Regions from separate parts of the Homo sapiens genome. Here regions 1, 2 and 3 are each linked to region 4. Evidence: fine-mapped QTL for protein levels in blood plasma. Region 4 holds a variant in brackets. A gene starts in each other region. All regions are shown on their reverse strands. Region 1 holds the start of PPBP (pro-platelet basic protein). Region 2 holds the start of CLEC1B (C-type lectin domain family 1 member B). Region 3 holds the start of TREML1 (triggering receptor expressed on myeloid cells like 1). Region 4 has its middle 49 kb from the start of CD36.

The links. A credible set is the group of variants that fine-mapping cannot tell apart. PIP is the chance, under the fine-mapping model, that this variant and not a neighbour inherited with it causes the effect. Protein levels are from antibody-based Olink assays in UK Biobank. Linkage for the fine-mapping came from a reference panel and not from the study's own genotypes, which makes the PIPs less certain.
Region 1: PPBP starts here. The variant in region 4 is the best candidate, but not a certain one, in a credible set for the plasma level of the PPBP protein (UK Biobank, PIP 0.80).
Region 2: CLEC1B starts here. The variant in region 4 is the best candidate, but not a certain one, in a credible set for the plasma level of the CLEC1B protein (UK Biobank, PIP 0.53).
Region 3: it holds the start of TREML1, and the variant in region 4 is the best candidate, but not a certain one, in a credible set for the plasma level of the TREML1 protein (UK Biobank, PIP 0.61).

Annotation. Positions count from the first base shown.
Region 1 is chr4:73,986,137-73,990,603 of GRCh38, reverse strand. It overlaps PPBP (pro-platelet basic protein), which reads left to right and starts at 2,414. Exons shown (of 3, transcript NM_002704.3): 1 at 2,414-2,648; 2 at 2,952-3,087; 3 at 3,230-4,165. The coding sequence starts at 2,501. The coding sequence ends at 3,332.
Region 2 is chr12:9,996,958-10,001,503 of GRCh38, reverse strand. CLEC1B (C-type lectin domain family 1 member B) reads left to right here and starts at 2,383. Exons shown (of 6, transcript NM_016509.4): 1 at 2,383-2,467; 2 at 3,124-3,222; 3 at 4,225-4,344; 4 at 4,504-4,546. The coding sequence starts at 2,404. It also overlaps a transcript of CLEC12A not described here.
Region 3 is chr6:41,151,599-41,156,144 of GRCh38, reverse strand. TREML1 (triggering receptor expressed on myeloid cells like 1) reads left to right here and starts at 1,798. Exons shown (of 6, transcript NM_178174.4): 1 at 1,798-1,899; 2 at 2,055-2,387. The coding sequence starts at 1,857.
Region 4 is chr7:80,587,284-80,591,829 of GRCh38, reverse strand. No RefSeq gene overlaps it. Among named protein-coding and RNA genes, the nearest start is that of CD36, 49 kb to the left of the region's middle. The variant G/A (reference allele first, on the strand shown) is at 2,185.

The sequences.
Region 1 (4,467 bases), not on the chromosome of region 4:
GAAAAATCATTCCAATTAAATATGCTCTACTGCTAAACTCTAATTTAAAGAAAACAATAAATGAGGTGGAGAAAAATAAGAAATACATTCATCAACTGAAACTAAGGCTAGTGAGGCAGAAATAATTTTATACATGTTTATTGAAAGCCAACTGGGAAGACAGACCTGGGAAGACACATCCACAAAGTTGGGGGTGTTCTAGAGTCTTTCACAAGTTACAAGGGCTTTATATAATAGAAAAGCTTAAAATAAGGCAGAAAAACTCCTCATACCAGAGTTGTCTTCTTTTTCATTGGAGGGTACAATACCGAAGTTAAAATCATTAGCTACAGATTACAGCATACAGGCTAAATGTCTACATACAAAACAATCAATAAAACTTTTTGTTTCAGCTAAACTTAGAAATAAATCATTGTCCTATTTAGTGTCAGTAGGTTCTACAGTAATTAGTACATCAATCATTTGAGGAACTCGTAATAAAATACTTTACTCAGAGATAGAATGTCACCATCAAGTCACGAAACCTTTCCAGGGCGAGTTAATTTGGAAGTCTGCTTACTTCTAAAGTAAACTGTCAAATGTGGTCTGTAGGTTATCGCATTTAAAAACAGGACCTGAGAACTTGAGTAGACATAGTAGATAACTATTAAACAATAGGGAAAATTGGCTTGAAAACAAAAACATGATTTAAAAAATTACTATATTCATCTTTTTGATAGAGAGTAATTTTGAACATTTAGTATTTTAAGCATTTCTTCTAAAATTTAAGGATATGAAAAGTAAGAAAAGAATATGGAAAATTTAAATAATATTCTGTGAGACTTATACATAGTTGTAAAAGGAAGAAAACTTGTTGCCAGTGCCACTTACATCTGCCTCTTCTTTATTGACAATCTTCCAAATAAATTTAAATAGCATAGTTGCTTTGGGTCCTGTCGAGTTTGGCCTGGAATTGTAGGTGATTAGAAAGGATAGGGAAGCTTTCATGTGATACGTATTCATTGATTTATTAATTATTTAAGACCTACTTTATATTGAAGTATCCTACATGTTATAGGATACATGAGACATTCAAACAAACACAGGACATGCCACTCCCTACAAAAGTGCATGGTTCAATTGAGGAAGGAAGTCTTACAGATGGGACAGAGAACCAGAAAATAACATAAAGCCAACATGTAATGTGTAGGTCCACCTCTCTATCTTTGTAGGGATATAGCATTTCAGACCAAAACCTTTAATTTGGGTCTGAGAATTCAGGAACAAATATTTTCCTTGGTAAGGACATTTCTTGCACAATTTCTAATAGTGCAAAATTGGAAACACCGTGAAGGGCACCAACAAGGCAAGGTTGAGTAACTATTGTTCTTATCACAGGACGTCACATGGTCATTAAGAAGAATGGGGGAAAACTACATTAAGATGACCTGAAAAGATAAGGAACACATATTTTTTGAAGGATAAAAGTCAGCTGTATAGTGATCCATATACAATACTTCTATGTATATGTGTACCTCTATGTCTTAAACGTGTCTCATTGTATACATATACATGTGTGCATATAAGTGCAGACAGAATTGAAAACTAATGCAAAATTGTTACCAGTGTTTACCACTGAATAGTAGGAATGTGGAGAAATGATGAAGAGAAATTTGTGTTTTATTTCAAAGACATCTGCAGCATACGAATCTTTTGCAATAAATTATATAATTTTTCTGTTAAATTAAAAATAAAAAGAAAAATAAATATGCTGGGTCCTACTTTTTAGGTATTCTTAGGTGGTAGAAACAAGTAGCTTCTTTTGTAATATAAAGGAGGATGAGTTTCATTTGTAGTTTCTAGATGAAATTACAAAAGATAATATAGATTGAAGGCAGAAAGAATCCAATAAGCTAAAATCCAAAGACAACCTTTGACGGTAATTGGCTCTTATTTTACTTACATGCTCCAAACCAATCCCAATATTTATCAACATTCATGAAAAGAACATTTGCTTTCTTTGGCAAGCAAAGATAACTTTCTCTTTCAAGGGCCACATGTTTGTGCCTTCAGGTGCTCCTAAAGTTTCTATTAAGCCTAAAAACTGCAGTATAGAAAAGGCAGGGCGTATTGTTATAAATCATACAAAGAAAATGCATGTAGTATTTCAGTCTAGTTCTTACCTTCCTGAACGGAGTTCTTACACAGGTGTAAGGAAGATAAGTATTGAGAAAGGGAGAGTGGGAATGTGAAGTGATGCACATTAAGCAAGTTAGTAGGAATTTGACCTGTCTGGTCTTTCTCTGGGTTGGGCACAGCTTCAAATGCTTATGTGTGTATCACCACATACCCTCACTTCCTCCTTTCCTACCTCTTCCTTCTTACTGGCTTTGAGAAAGAGCATATAAATGACATCTTCAGGGCATGAGAAGCCACTTATCTGCAGACTTGTAGGCAGCAACTCACCCTCACTCAGAGGTCTTCTGGTTCTGGAAACAACTCTAGCTCAGCCTTCTCCACCATGAGCCTCAGACTTGATACCACCCCTTCCTGTAACAGTGCGAGACCACTTCATGCCTTGCAGGTGCTGCTGCTTCTGTCATTGCTGCTGACTGCTCTGGCTTCCTCCACCAAAGGACAAACTAAGAGAAACTTGGCGAAAGGCAAAGGTAGAGGCCCTGCTTCTCTGCACTTGTTGCTGCTTCTGCTACACCTGTCTCTGGGGTAAAGACTAGCTTGGTGCCTTTGGGGCTGGAGAGGGCCATTATACCAATAACTCCAATTGGAGGAGACACACAGGGGGGTCACTTCTCACTTCTTGTGTGCTGGGCAATCTTCTGGGCACTTTACTAAAGCGTTACAGATCATATTCACAATGGCTTTATGAGAGAGGTACAATTGCCCTCAATCTGCAAATAAGAGACCTGAGGAAAATATTCATGACCACCAATAGGTCACATTTTCTACCCTAGAGGAAAGTCTAGACAGTGACTTGTATGCTGAACTCCGCTGCATGTGTATAAAGACAACCTCTGGAATTCATCCCAAAAACATCCAAAGTTTGGAAGTGATCGGGAAAGGAACCCATTGCAACCAAGTCGAAGTGATGTAAGTTGCTGTTTCTGTGCTATTGCCTTATCAGAGAAACCCTCTACCTCCATCCACATATGCACTCGTTTCCTCCAGTCTCATGGATTAGTTCTGATATTCAGATCAGGACACCCACAGATAACCCTGTTCTCTTTTGCAGAGCCACACTGAAGGATGGGAGGAAAATCTGCCTGGACCCAGATGCTCCCAGAATCAAGAAAATTGTACAGAAAAAATTGGCAGGTGATGAATCTGCTGATTAATTTGTTCTGTTTCTGCCAAACTTCTTTAACTCCCAGGAAGGGTAGAATTTTGAAACCTTGATTTTCTAGAGTTCTCATTTATTCAGGATACCTATTCTTACTGTATTAAAATTTGGATATGTGTTTCATTCTGTCTCAAAAATCACATTTTATTCTGAGAAGGTTGGTTAAAAGATGGCAGAAAGAAGATGAAAATAAATAAGCCTGGTTTCAACCCTCTAATTCTTGCCTAAACATTGGACTGTACTTTGCATTTTTTTCTTTAAAAATTTCTATTCTAACACAACTTGGTTGATTTTTCCTGGTCTACTTTATGGTTATTAGACATACTCATGGGTATTATTAGATTTCATAATGGTCAATGATAATAGGAATTACATGGAGCCCAACAGAGAATATTTGCTCAATACATTTTTGTTAATATATTTAGGAACTTAATGGAGTCTCTCAGTGTCTTAGTCCTAGGATGTCTTATTTAAAATACTCCCTGAAAGTTTATTCTGATGTTTATTTTAGCCATCAAACACTAAAATAATAAATTGGTGAATATGAATCTTATAAACTGTGGTTAGCTGGTTTAAAGTGAATATATTTGCCACTAGTAGAACAAAAATAGATGATGAAAATGAATTAACATATCTACATAGTTATAATTCTATCATTAGAATGAGCCTTATAAATAAGTACAATATAGGACTTCAACCTTACTAGACTCCTAATTCTAAATTCTACTTTTTTCATCAACAGAACTTTCATTCATTTTTTAAACCCTAAAACTTATACCCACACTATTCTTACAAAAATATTCACATGAAATAAAAATTTGCTATTGACTTGTTGTCATCTATTATTAATTTTAACAGGATTGTTGGGGAAAAAAAGCTTTAATTTTCCTCTCTTTTTTGTATACTTGGTATTTCACAGTTTGAACAACAAAAGTTACTAAATTGATGATCGGTGTCATTCTTAATGTAGTATGATAACAGTTCCAATTTATTAATCATTTTAATATGCCAGGAATACTAAGTGTTTTCCATGCATGAACTAAACAATTTTTTAAAAGATAGATATGATCTGGTTAAAAGAACATCCTCTGGAGTTTGAATAATGAGGTAACCTGGCTCTGCCACTTGTT
Region 2 (4,546 bases), not on the chromosome of region 4:
ACGTATATTTTGTGGAACACAGATAAGATATAAGACTCTCAGACTGTGGCTGGAATGATCAAAGATCCAAAAAGCAAGGTTAAATTACAATGAGAAAGAGGAATGAAGCAATGGAAAGTCCAGAGCCTGAGATATAGGAAAGGAATATCTTCAAAGGCGGAGTGTTAACCTACTTCAGGCATTAAATATGCAGTTCTAAGCATTAAAGGATCAAGAACTAATCCTGGCACATTCCTGGTGGTTTACAAAAATACATGGGACATGTTTTATAATGAAATCAGCTGCTCAAGTCCTAGAGAATGTGGAAACCTCAACAAAGCAATCTAATTGTTCTCTTTAATACCATCTTAAAGTTTTTGTTAATAAACAAAAAATGTTTACAATAATTTAAAAATTGTCTCAATGTCCTTGGATCTTACCTTTACATATCTGATTTAATGTAACAAATTAAGTTTTCATATGTACCTGTTTGGTACCTAAGAGAACAGAGTAAAGCTTTATTGGAAAAGTGTCATTTGTACTATAACCTCCACACATTTTCTTTTCTCTCTGTTACTTTGTCACAGTTATTTATTCGATTATTTTTTAGTGTTTCTGTATATTTTAGGTAACAAAACACTGAAGGAAAGCAGTGACCAAAAGAACGTGAAAGACAGGGGTTACTGTGACAGAATAGCCTCAGGACTTGCTGATGAGTAGATGTAGAAAGGAAGGAAGAGAGGGAGGATCAAACCCCATTCCAACCCCAATCTTCCAGAAAAGCCTGAGGATAAATGATGGGAGAGCGAAGAATCCCTTTTAGCTGAAACAGAAGTTATGAGAACAGAAGCAGTGGTAGATGAATGGTAAGTGACTGAATTTACCCAGCTTATGATTGGGAACCCCTGAATATTTTAACTGAGATAAGAAACACAGCAACAAAAATGGTGTTGGGATTTAATGTTTTTTAAAAATTTTTAGTCTTTTCTTAAAATTTGGCATTTATTTCAAATGTGTTTTTTTTTAATTAAGAATTAGTTTTGGTAAAAATATTTGAATCATACTAAGTTTGGCTTTCCAAAATCAGGGAATGTCTTTTATACGTGTTATGCTTATTCTTCACCTCATTCTCAAAATAATTTGAAGAGTATAGAGAAAGAAATTTAGAATGAAAGATAATTTTAAGTGAATTGACAAGAAATTCAGAGTGAAGGAGATAGCAGGGGAGAAAAAATCTACGGGCTATGCCAAAGGGCATGTTAATAAACAAAATATCTGCTACTGCAGCCCACATAATCACTATATTGAAAAGTCTAACACTCTGCTAAGTAAAGAAAAATAGAATTCAAATTATTTATAAGGTAAATGCCTACTACTTAAAGCTTTGCTAGTCATGGTGATTTAACAAAAATAAAAATCTGCCATAAAACTATGTAAGAGTTACCCTATGGCAAAATAGACAACATCCTCCCCAATATTCCTATAATAAATGCATCAGCTAGCTTTGTATGGCTGTTCTTACAACTACTTTCAGTGCAAGCTAAAATAATGTAAAAGCCCATTTCATAAAGTTAAGTGTGTGCAATACATATTATATTGTGATGAAAAGGTGCTAGGAACCATTCAGTCTCAAATATTCATCTAAGCACAGCTGTACTTGAAATGAAGTGATTTCATCAAATCAAAATTCTTCCATTCCAGGAAACTCACTTTAAAGCACAAACACTACTAAAGAACAATGCAGCAAGTCACCAACTCTGTATTATTTTACTTGATTTGATAGTTTTCCTTCAATACCTAAATCTAAGCAATATCAGGCCTGCCTCATGTGGATCCTTCAAATAAAAAAAAGTATGAAATATGCAAGAAGTTGTGTAAATTCTAGGTCATAATCAGGAATGATCTCTTCCAACACAAGACTATGAAACAGCTAATTTAGCCCCTATCAGATCCAATTATATTACACTTGCTTCTCACAATGAGATAAACTATATATCTGCTGGTGAGCTATATCCATGAATTTTCAGCAGAAATCTCTCATTTGAGCAATGTAATTTAGACTAAGCTAGGGCTAAGATAAAGCATGAACTTTTGTTCTTAGAAAGGATGCACATGATGGAATGTCCCTTTATTTAGTGTTGAAGATAAAAAAAAAGCAGGAAGCAAATACCTTATCTACTCCTTTACCACAAGTTATTATTATTTTTGTGTTTTTGTGTTCAAGGTCCATGTATCTCTGAGCAGCTATGAAGAAGCTTCCTGGAAAACAATAAGCAAAGGAAAACAAATGTGTCCCATCTCACATGGTTCTACCCTACTAAAGACAGGAAGATCATAAACTGACAGATACTGAAATTGTAAAGTTGGAAACTACATTTTGCAAAGTCATTGAACTCTGAGCTCAGTTGCAGTACTCGGGAAGCCATGCAGGATGAAGATGGATACATCACCTTAAATATTAAAACTCGGAAACCAGCTCTCATCTCCGGTAAGAATGCTCAGAGCCAATAATTTGGAAATTAATTTAAAAAATGAGTTGATTCAATTCTTTCTTTTTCTACTATTGATAATATATATAGTTTAATTTCTTTTTCTTGAATGATGTTAATGCTCTAAAGCATTTGAGTAGTGTTTTCATAAGCTCATACAGACCTATTTAGATTACAAACATCCAATATATGTGCAGGGAAAATTGCATTAAGATTCTGAGCGTTTAATACTCGAGGGCATAGAAGTCAAGGGGATAACGGAAAAGAGTGGAAATTTCATTTTCTATATGTGAGCAAATGAGTGTGATTCTTCATTTGCTGTTTATTAAAGCAATTATTTATGGCATGGGTGAGCATAAAACAAAACAAAACAAAACAAAACAAAACAAAAAATACAAACACATCAGGCCTTAACAGCAAGTAATATTTCAGCTTGGAGAGGTAAAGTGCATTGGAGATGAGAATGGATGTATGGTATAGGGGTGGGCCATGCCTATTGTTGATGATCATGAGGAGAACACAGGTGAGATCTGCCAGCAAAGCTCTTTCTATTACTTGGAGGACCCTGAGAAGGCAGGGGCAGGGGCAGGGGTGAGCCTTCCCCATAGCTAACCCATACTGCCTGCTCCTTGATGTCTTTATTATATGCCTACAGTTGGCTCTGCATCCTCCTCCTGGTGGCGTGTGATGGCTTTGATTCTGCTGATCCTGTGCGTGGGGATGGTTGTCGGGCTGGTGGCTCTGGGGATTTGGTGTAAGTGTTGACTCTGCCAGAAATTTGACTGGAGGAAGGTAATACTGAAGGGTCATGGCATATCCCACTAAGCTTCTCAATGGTCGCTATTTGTCTGTTTATCACTTCTACAGTTGTCCTACAGATAGTTGCCAAGAGAATCTCAATAAAGGAGAACACTGACTGTTTCCTTGTGATTAAAATAAGATTTTAAGATTTTAACTAATGAAAAGTTATTTTTAAGAATGTACTACTGGCCTTTAAGACCCTCCTCAGTGTGGATCCAAACTATTTTTAAAAACTTTTTCATCCCTTTTCCTATCTTGCATTCCTAAGAACCAGCCAAACTGGAGTTTTTCAATTTCATATATAAATTCCATGTTCCCTTGTCTGAAATTTTTCTCATTCTATTCTCTCTACCTAAAATTTTCTGTTTCTCATTTTGTTTACTAAGTTACTGTGCATTTCTTCTTTCTGTAATTCTCATGGCCCTCCAATAGCACATTGAAGTCTGTGTAGTTGTTGCTTGTTTGTGTATTTGTTGATTTTTTTAAAAGATGTTAGAATCTAACATTTATCCTCTTGTATTTCTTTATTATTTACCTGAATATCACAAGTACTTTAAGCATAACAAGAAATCAGTATGTATTTTTAAATGAATGAATAGTTTGGCATCACAGAAAGAACAGAAAATAAGAGGTCATTCACCTCTATAACTCAGCTGAGAAGCTTGTATTCAAGCAAATGAATACAGGCTCTGGGGATGTTATCGATGTTGGGATTTTTTATTTGTGATTGTCTCCTTCAAACAGTTCACTTATTAACCCTCAGGCGTCAGTTCTGTGTATTTCTTAATTTGTTCTTTATAGCCCCTCCACACTTTTCAACATTCATTTAATCATGTGTATCTAGTAAACTCCTCATATATTGGCAAAGTTAAGGAAATGAAAATTCAATGACAGACCTTTGCATCATTTCTATGGTTCTAATTACAAATTATTATTATTTACTTTTTAAACCTAGCTGTCATGCAGCGCAATTACCTACAAGGTGAGAATGAAAATCGCACAGGAACTCTGCAACAATTAGCAAAGCGCTTCTGTCAATATGTGGTAAAACAATCAGAACTAAAGGGCACTTTCAGTAAGTATTGTTTTTTTAACCTCTTCATCTCTCCAACCCCTGGAGCATTTCTCTGATGGCAACTGAAGGGAGTTTGAGATCTGCAGAAAACATTGAATGTGAAGAAAATGTAAGCCCAATTTAGAAAAAATACACCATTCCTGTGCTTGGTTTCTCCAGAAGGTCATAAATGCAGCCCCTGTGACACAAACTGGAGATATTA
Region 3 (4,546 bases), not on the chromosome of region 4:
GTCACCTCTGTCTCAGCACCCAGCAGTGGACCATATTCAACACTTAGTCCAGTGTTGAATACAGTTCACCTCTTCACACAACACGCCTGGGTGGCTTGTTAGTATGAAAATAACTTTCTTATAAGGAAATCAAAGAAAGCCTGATATGCATTGGCAAGACAGACATAAGCACATCACCAACTAGGGTGACCCGTCCTGGTTTGTTCAGGACTTTTTCAGTTTTTGCACAGAAAGTCCCAAGAAACCCCTCAATCCCAAGCAAAAACGGGAAGTTGGTCACCCAATCTCCCACTTCCACAAGGCCCAGCTTAACACATTAACTGATTTTCTCATGCTCCTGCTCCCAGTTTCCCATTCCTCACTCCCTTGTTCCCAAAGGAAGGAAGGAAAAAGAGGAAAAAAGGTGAGACGGGAGGAGATGGGAGTGAGGGAGAATGGCCTTTCCAGGCCCTTTTCTAGGTCTTACCCTCCAGATTAGGGCAATACGCCCCTCCCACCCATCCCCAGCTGCTGTAGTCTCTCTGACCACTGGTGCTTCCCCTGTGTCTGAGGTCAGATAGTTTATTAGGTTTATTACTCACACTTTGTCCCAGTTCCTCGAGCCCAATTCCACAGGGCAACATGAATGAGAGCCAGGTGCCTCCTGTGCAGGCAGTGAGTTTGGATCACAGGAGAGAAACCCCCAAATTAGGAGACTTGGAGTTTATATAGAGAATCTGGTATATCTTCCTCTCTGGAAGAGAGAGAGAGAGAGAGAGAGAGAGAGAGAAACGTTTACTCTGGAATGTAAATCTCCGGTGAAGAAGAGGAAGAATGCGAGCAAATCTCTGGACGTTGCACTCAAGGTATGTTTGCTATTCAATCACCCTTCAGCAAAACTTGGCCAATACCCTTTGCACAGAAGGACTAGAACATGCAGCAATGTGAAAATATTTGTGAAGAATTGTCTTCCAACAGAGAAGATAGAGCATTCATGAAACAAAAATAGTATGCCAGAATTTAAAAATGCTCAAAGAATAAGGAATATCTTGTCTTGTAAATTAAAAATATTAAAAAATAACATTTTAAAAGACAAAAATAGAAGGATGGAAGAAAATGAGGAAATCTCCTTGAAGGCAGAACAAAAGAGACAAAAAGATGGAAAATGAGATAGAAAAGATATGAAAATGAGATGAACACACGACATTCAATAACCAACTAGTTAAGGAATTGCAGAAAAATGGAAGGGGAGAAGAAAATGGACATGTAATTATCAAAGTAAGAATTTGTTTCCCAGAACTGAAGAATGTGGATCCAGATGGAAGGGTTCTATAGTGTCCAGGACAATAAATGAAGAAAGACCCAGTCCAGGGCACAGGATCAAGGTGAAACTTCCTGTTTGAGGTTGTACTGCATACAACCTCCTAAAAGCTTGGGTGGTCGTGGGGCACTCCCAAAGAATTGAGAGCAAGAATGGCATTGAGTGAGGTGCAGGGCACTCTACCTTCCTCCTTCATAGCTGTGCACCCTCAGATTCTGTATTAGGAAGATCCTGAAGATCATCTTTCCTCTTCCTCTCCTGTCCTCCAATTGTCACAATCCTCCCATCTCACCCCTTAGCCGGGCCCCAGCCCCTGCAGGCTTCTAGCTTTCTTCGGGTCTTCTCATCCTGTCTTGCCCACCCTTACCCTCAGGGCAGTTCCTGAGCACTGAGCCAACCAGGGCTTGGAAGAACTCCCTTTCCCCACCCCTGGAGGTGCCCATCATTTCCTTTCTCCCACCCCAAGTGACTTTCTGAGGCAGATGTTTCCTGCCCTCAGGCGAATGCTGCATCAGTGCCCAGGCAAGCCCAGGAGTTGACATTTCTCTGCCCAGCCATGGGCCTCACCCTGCTCTTGCTGCTGCTCCTGGGACTAGAAGGTAAGGTTCAGGAGGAGCTGCAGCTCTGGGCCCCATATGCTCAGCCCCATGTCCAGGAGTAACGTGTTATTGTGAATGCCACACCCATACCAGCAGCTGGGCTGGGAGATGCTCCCAGCTCCTGCCCAAAATTCCCACCTCCTTTCCTTCCCCAGGTCAGGGCATAGTTGGCAGCCTCCCTGAGGTGCTGCAGGCACCCGTGGGAAGCTCCATTCTGGTGCAGTGCCACTACAGGCTCCAGGATGTCAAAGCTCAGAAGGTGTGGTGCCGGTTCTTGCCGGAGGGGTGCCAGCCCCTGGTGTCCTCAGCTGTGGATCGCAGAGCTCCAGCGGGCAGGCGTACGTTTCTCACAGACCTGGGTGGGGGCCTGCTGCAGGTGGAAATGGTTACCCTGCAGGAAGAGGATGCTGGCGAGTATGGCTGCATGGTGGATGGGGCCAGGGGGCCCCAGATTTTGCACAGAGTCTCTCTGAACATACTGCCCCCAGGTGAGTTATCCTAGGCCAGCTACCACCCCTTAGACCTACCCTCCCCACCCCCGCCTATTGCCAGGGCTCATGGGTTCTTGAGGAGTGGGGGCCCCTGGGGAGGAGGCATTCCAAGGAGATATCCTCTTGACAGCTCTGCAGGGAGCGGAAACCAAACTGGGTGGGAAGTCTGAGATAAATCAGCTGAAAACCATCCCTTTCCCCCTTCCACACTACTGCGCTTCCCCACAGGAAGGCATGTCCTTCCCACTCCAGGGACTTGGCCTCTTCTTCCAGCATTTTCAACATACTTGATGCTAACTTATTTTTTAATTAGAAATATTTTAAACAATGTTGAATCTGAGTGTATAAAACCAGAATTAATTTTTGTAGCTTCCAGTGTTTTATTCCTGTAATAGCGGGCTTGATGGCTTAAGAATTATGGAATTCATACCTTAATTAATTTTATAAGTCTTCACAGGCCATCTAGTATGTCTCACCTACAAGTAGGTACATTCAGTGCCTGAACAACTTCAACTCCTTTCGTTTTAAAAATGGAAAAATGTCATTAATATTTTAAGCCAATATTCTTGACCCTATTTTCAGTATTAAAGACACTGTTTTTGCAGGTTTCATTCCCACAGCCCATAACTTTTCTAGTATATAAGCATTTGTTAAAAGAAAATTTTAAAATATTAAAAACTTGGGTTTTTTTTTTTAAGAAAGATAGGATGTTCTAAAAATAAAAAATGGTCAGCTACCTGAAGCACAGACAGCCACTCCTTTTCTTTTATGGATACTGGCCATTTTTTCACCTTTAGGTCTTCCTTTTCTCATATTTTATGCCCAACCCCCAAATAATAAAATTAAGTAGAGCATTTTCCCTTCCCTTGTTTTTTGTTTTGTTTGAGACAGGGTCTCACTCTGTTGCTCAAGCTGGAGTGCAGTGGCACTATCGGCTCACTGCAACCTTGGCCTCTCGGGTTCAAGTGATTCTTGTGTCTCAGCCTCCCAAGTAACTGGGACTACAGGTGCCCACCACCATGCCCAGCTAATTTTTGTATTTTTAGTAGAGACGGGGTTTTATCATGTTGGCCAGGCTGGTCTTGAACTCCTGACCTCAAGTGATCTGCCCGCCTTGGCCTCCCAAAGTGCTGGGATTGCAGGTATAAGCCACCACCCCTGGCCCCTTCCCTTGTTTTTTTTCCCTCTAAATAAGAGGGTAGACTATGTTGTCATTAGAATCCTTCTCATCTCAAGCCTGTGGTTATTGTTTTATATTATAAATATATTGTTAATCCTTGTCATCCTTTGCCCTCCTCATTCCTTGACACTTTGAGTTACTAAATTCAGGTTCTAACTCACTAAAAGGCAAATTGTGACAAGATGAGACTCCCTGGGAGGAGCGTCAGGGAGGCAGGGACCTGGGCCCCTGACCTGCTGCCATGGGGCAGGTGCTGTGGAGGATGATGTTCAGGCAGGCAGGTGGCGCGTAGCATCCAGAGATGATGTGGCTTGCGGCTCAGGTGAGCATTTAGCTTCAGAGAAGGTGGTCAAAGGCAGCCTAATAGGCACCAGGAGGGCAGGACATGTGCCACAGCAACCCCAGTTCCTGGTGTGGCATAGGATGGGGAGTAGGAATGGTGAATCTCTCAAGAACAAGGCAAGGCCCCATTCCAGTCGGTCTGAAAGGACTGGCCAGGTTCCTAAGACAAGTCTCCAGGCCCAGAGAAACCAACCCCAAGTCCTGCAGCCAGAAGTCAAGCACATCATATGGGTGACAGAAGCCTTGTCCTCAAACTGAGTCTCAGGATCCCAGCAAGGCTCTCAGCAAGGGTCAGTTGGTTTGTGTTGCATCACATGAGGGCCCACCCAGATTTTCTTCAGTCCTGAGGGCAGAGCTTGGGCTAGGGTTGCAGGGTCACAGGTATGTGAGGAAGCCCCATTTAAGACCCATGAGATCCAGGAGCTATGTCACCATTGAGGATGAGAACTGCAGAAACCTATTCGGGTGGGAAGGAGAGGTGGGTACAGATCATCCAGTAGGTGTTTTTACACAGACTTAACAGCTTGATAAGGCCAGAGGGGTGAGGGGTAGAGCAGGTAAAAGGGAAGAAATGCAGCAGGAAGATGGGGGGAGCTGGTGGTAGAGGGAAAAGTGGGTGTAGTCACAACCAGGT
Region 4 (4,546 bases):
TTTTCAAGCAGTTAGAGTCCAAATTGATTTTAAAATCGAAATGGAAACAGACACATTTACCATTTTTGTTATTGTTAATCCCTGAATATTGGAAACTAGTGGTTGGGAAAAACTGTAGTACAATAGTAGATAGATGATAGTTATAATAGAAAGTAGCTAATTATTAAACTGTAAGATATGCATAAATAATTTGCTTTGACATCTCAGAAGGAGATGAGGAAATGCAGAGATAATAGGATATTATGTAAAACTTTGAAAAAATTCATAGGATATGAACATGTGGAAAGGGAAAGAAATGAGCTTCTAGGCAGAGCAAACAGTTTAAAAAAAGACTTGGAGGCCCTTAAACATATGGGATATGTACATGAAGCAGAGAGGCATTAAGTTTGCCTGAAGCTCTGCCAACTCAAGAAGTAGGAAATAATTTTCAAATTTGGGAAAAAAGAAAAAGAAAACTGAGGAAATATCACAGAAAATGTTAAATGCTTGGGCAAGGTATCCATTCAGTAGGAATTGAGGAGACACTGAAAGGGTATGGAAGGTTAGTGCAAAGGTTTATTCTCTTCATGTTTGGCATATCTTGGCTTATAATTGCTCTTTGCTTCATTATTTTCAACTGTCCTTGAAAACCTAAGTGTCTCAGATTTGTAAAAAAAGAACCTTAGAATGATATTCAAGATACCTGTGGTATCTTTTGCCTTGATGTTTCTGTTATTATTATTATTTTAAACTTTGCAATTCCTTATTTTCCACGATCTCCCATTTCCTTATTCACAAATTGGCATCAAATTGCCAGATTTGTATACTTTACTTTGGAACTCTAAGTGTATAAATTGAATATGTTTTGCCATACTATTTTGGGGGTATGATCTAGGTACCTCTAAGAAATACTTTTATTTTAGCAAATATTGTATATCCTTTAGAACAATTTACAATTAGAGGAAGATACGGGGTGGTGGGCATGTCAAGTTCATGTATCTTATTACCAAATTCAGATTATAATCAGTGGTCATGTCCATGGTTCAGGAGGTGACACAACATATAGCCAGAAATCAGTCATAAATACGAGGGTATAGGAGAAGAGATTTCATCTCTATCAAAATTGAAACATTTTTAGCATAAAACCTAAGACCTAATATTATATAACAAGATATCTTTATATTTGTGTGTGAGATACATTTCAAATAGCCATTTAATAACTCATTGCTATAGTCTCTTCGATGATAAAGAAAACTTATACATTTTCTGTTCATACTTGTTTGATATATTATCAAAATTAGGGACTGTAGTCATAGATTCCTGAAAGAAGTGAGCTCAGGATAGTGACATTAACCCTTGCCTTACTGTTTGTAGATGTAATACCAAATTTTAATCTTTGATGGAATGTTTCTGACCAAAATTAGTATGTAAAGTATATGCTAATACTTGGTTTAATTCTGGTTTATTATCTTAATGTCCTAATTGATCCATAAACTTGAACATCTTTTGCATTACAGAGCACACTTGTAAGCAATTTTGGAAGCTCCTAAAATTAGGGTTGGGGACTTTCACTAATATTTTTAGTTCGCTTTTTATCTAGAAGTTATATATTTTGTTTTGTTTACATCAAAAGAAGTACAGAGAATAACATTGTCTGTGTTTTTGCTTTTCCCCTTAAATGATACATAATAGACAAATTTAATATTATAAGGAGAATATTAAGCCATGGAAATACTCAGCTGTATTTTAAAGACAATTATTAAAAGTTTACCTGAATACTAAGATACACTTACAATGCAAATTGGAATGTTTCCCCGTAAGACTTTTTTTTTTTTTTTTTTTGCATGGAGATCACAGTTAAGCAAGTTGGAGTGTGCTGTCTATTTTTTTCTTAGCTTCATCTGGTATCTCCATATACTGTGTCTGTCTCCTTCTCTTTCCCTTTCCACACTTTTCCCTTAGAGCTTCCTTCCTTGTCCCTAAAACATTATTCCAAGCTGCCAGCTCAAGGACTCTATACTGTAATGTCCTGCAAATGACCTCATGGAAGCTATTAGTAGGTATAAATTTTAAGATAAAAAAGAGAAGCAAATAAGAAGCCATAACCTAGTCTAAAGGAAACATCTGGTCCCTACCAGAAGTGATGTGCTAAAAATGAAACACAGAACTGTGGGATTTGAATTTTAAGTTAATAACAATGAACAC[G/A]ATATAGAAATGGGTGATTTAAGCAGCTAAGATTTCAAGGTCTAACTCTTGATTAAGGTTTATATGACATTACCCCTTCCAGGAAACTTAGAAACATAGGAGACTGATTGTCTTTCATGTAAAGGATTAAATGCAAGCAAAATTCATAAAGCAGAAAATATTTGTGATACTTGTGTTTTTTGATTGACAGCAGATACAGTTAGGCCTACTCAGTCTTTCTGTAAACTTTTCTTCCTGTACAGTTACAAGTCAACTTTATACTCATTTTGTTCATAAGGACAATATCTAAAAATATCTTTTATTATTATTTTTTGTCTTTTAACTTTATGTTGTGGACATCTTAGAGAGTAGAGATAATGGTATAACATAGAGCCCAGGTGATCATACCTCAGCTTCAATGTTTATCCACATTTTGCCATTTGGGCAGTAAATCACTTTTAGATATTCAGTCTAAAAACCTTAACATAAAGGACAGACATGATATAAACGGATATTTGAATATTGGAATTTGGAGGCTAAATCAGAGATTAGATAAGAATTGCAATGACCAAGGTCCGAAGTCACTAGGAAAAAACAGTCGCTAAATTTTATGTTTGTATTACATGCATGCTAATTCACAACACAGAACTGATTGGATTTATTTAGCTACTGTGTGCTAATTGTAGTATTAAAACATCTGCAGGATCAAAGAGATCATATACAACACTGAATCCAAAACTGTCACATCTACTTTTCTTGATGATACCTCAAATAAAAACTCTATTCCATTGCCTTAATGCTAAATAGAAGCTTTGGCCCATTACAATATAAATTCCCTTGGAGGTCTGGCAGTTATTTGCAGGTCATGACTCAGCGTTAGCCAGTTTACCCTTGTTCATCTTAGGGCCTGTTACATTGAAGGCTTTCCATGAAATTGACTGAATGAATTGTTTCAATACGGAATGCAATAAAACACATTTCTAGGTACCAGTACAGGCAATTGAGAGATAGATGTGTTCAGATTTTCGATTTCTTAATAATTCAATCTTGGTAGATTGCACATGTTCAGTAATTTATCCATTTCATCTAGGTTTTTCCAAATTGCTAGCGTATAATTGTTCATAATAATTTCTTGTGATCTGTTGTATCTTTTCCCTTAGATCTCAGCATTCTCTCCAACGTCGAGCCATTCTTTGTGACTTCTTTGGTATAGATTTTCTAGATAAGTCTGACTTTTGAGAAAATCTTTGGATGAATTGTGATTATGAAAATCAGACTGACACACACATGCATAAAGTAACTAATTCAAAACAAATGGAAATTAATAGAGCCACCTCAAGTCACACACAAAGCTAAATGCTTTGCTCAGGATTCTACGGCAATTAGAAGCCGACTCCATCAGACTCTTGGTCTTTTGACCACATTGAGCTTTTATGTCCAAAGCATAACTTAGGGCTTATGTTCCCTCATTGTGCAGTTTATACCTATTCTTGTACCACCACTACTTCTACGCCTCCCTTACAGATTATAGTTATCATTAGCCAACAAATTAGAAGCCCCTGGAGAGAAATGATTATGGCTTTGCAGTCATCATTGTGTTTAGTAGTAAGTACCCAATAATATATCTGATTAGCAGTCAGAGAGCTAACACATTAACCATTTCATTTAAGCCTCATTAAATCTCTCATGTAAAGAACACTACAGTGCAGATTATTGACTAGATGAGGAAGCTATCTTATTTATCATCCAGGTATTATTCTTTATCCTTGTTCCCAGACCAAGTGACACCAAATGTCAAAACGTTGTTTGATTATAATATCCTCCCTTATCTTGGTTATCAGCTGTTTTTACCCTTACAACTTCAGTTCTGAATGGAGAATAATTGTCTAATAGATTATCCATGAATCTGTCATACACTGTCAGATATTTTCCAAACACTGTCACTCAAATGACTTCTCAATACTCAGCTGCCTCAATTAACCTTTGAGATCAAAGGCCCCATTTTTTTTTCAGATAGGGTTCACTCTGTCACTCAGGCTAGAGTGCAGTGGTGCAATCTTGCTCACTGTAGCCTCAACCTCTTAGGTTCAAGTGATCCTCCCACCTCAGACTCCCATCACTGAAATTACAGACATGATGTGCCACCATTCTCAGCTAAGTTTTATTTTTACTTTTTTGTAAATATGGGGTCTCACTATATTGCCTAGGCTGGTCTCAAACTCCTGGGCTCAAGCAATCCTCCTGCCTCAGCCTCCTGTGTCACTGGGATTACAGGTATGACCCACCACACCCAAGTCACATTTTCTCATCTGTGAATGAAAGGTGTTAGAATCCTGGGCCCTGAAAGGTTAGATTGTAATTATATGGATTCTAAACTTGGTCT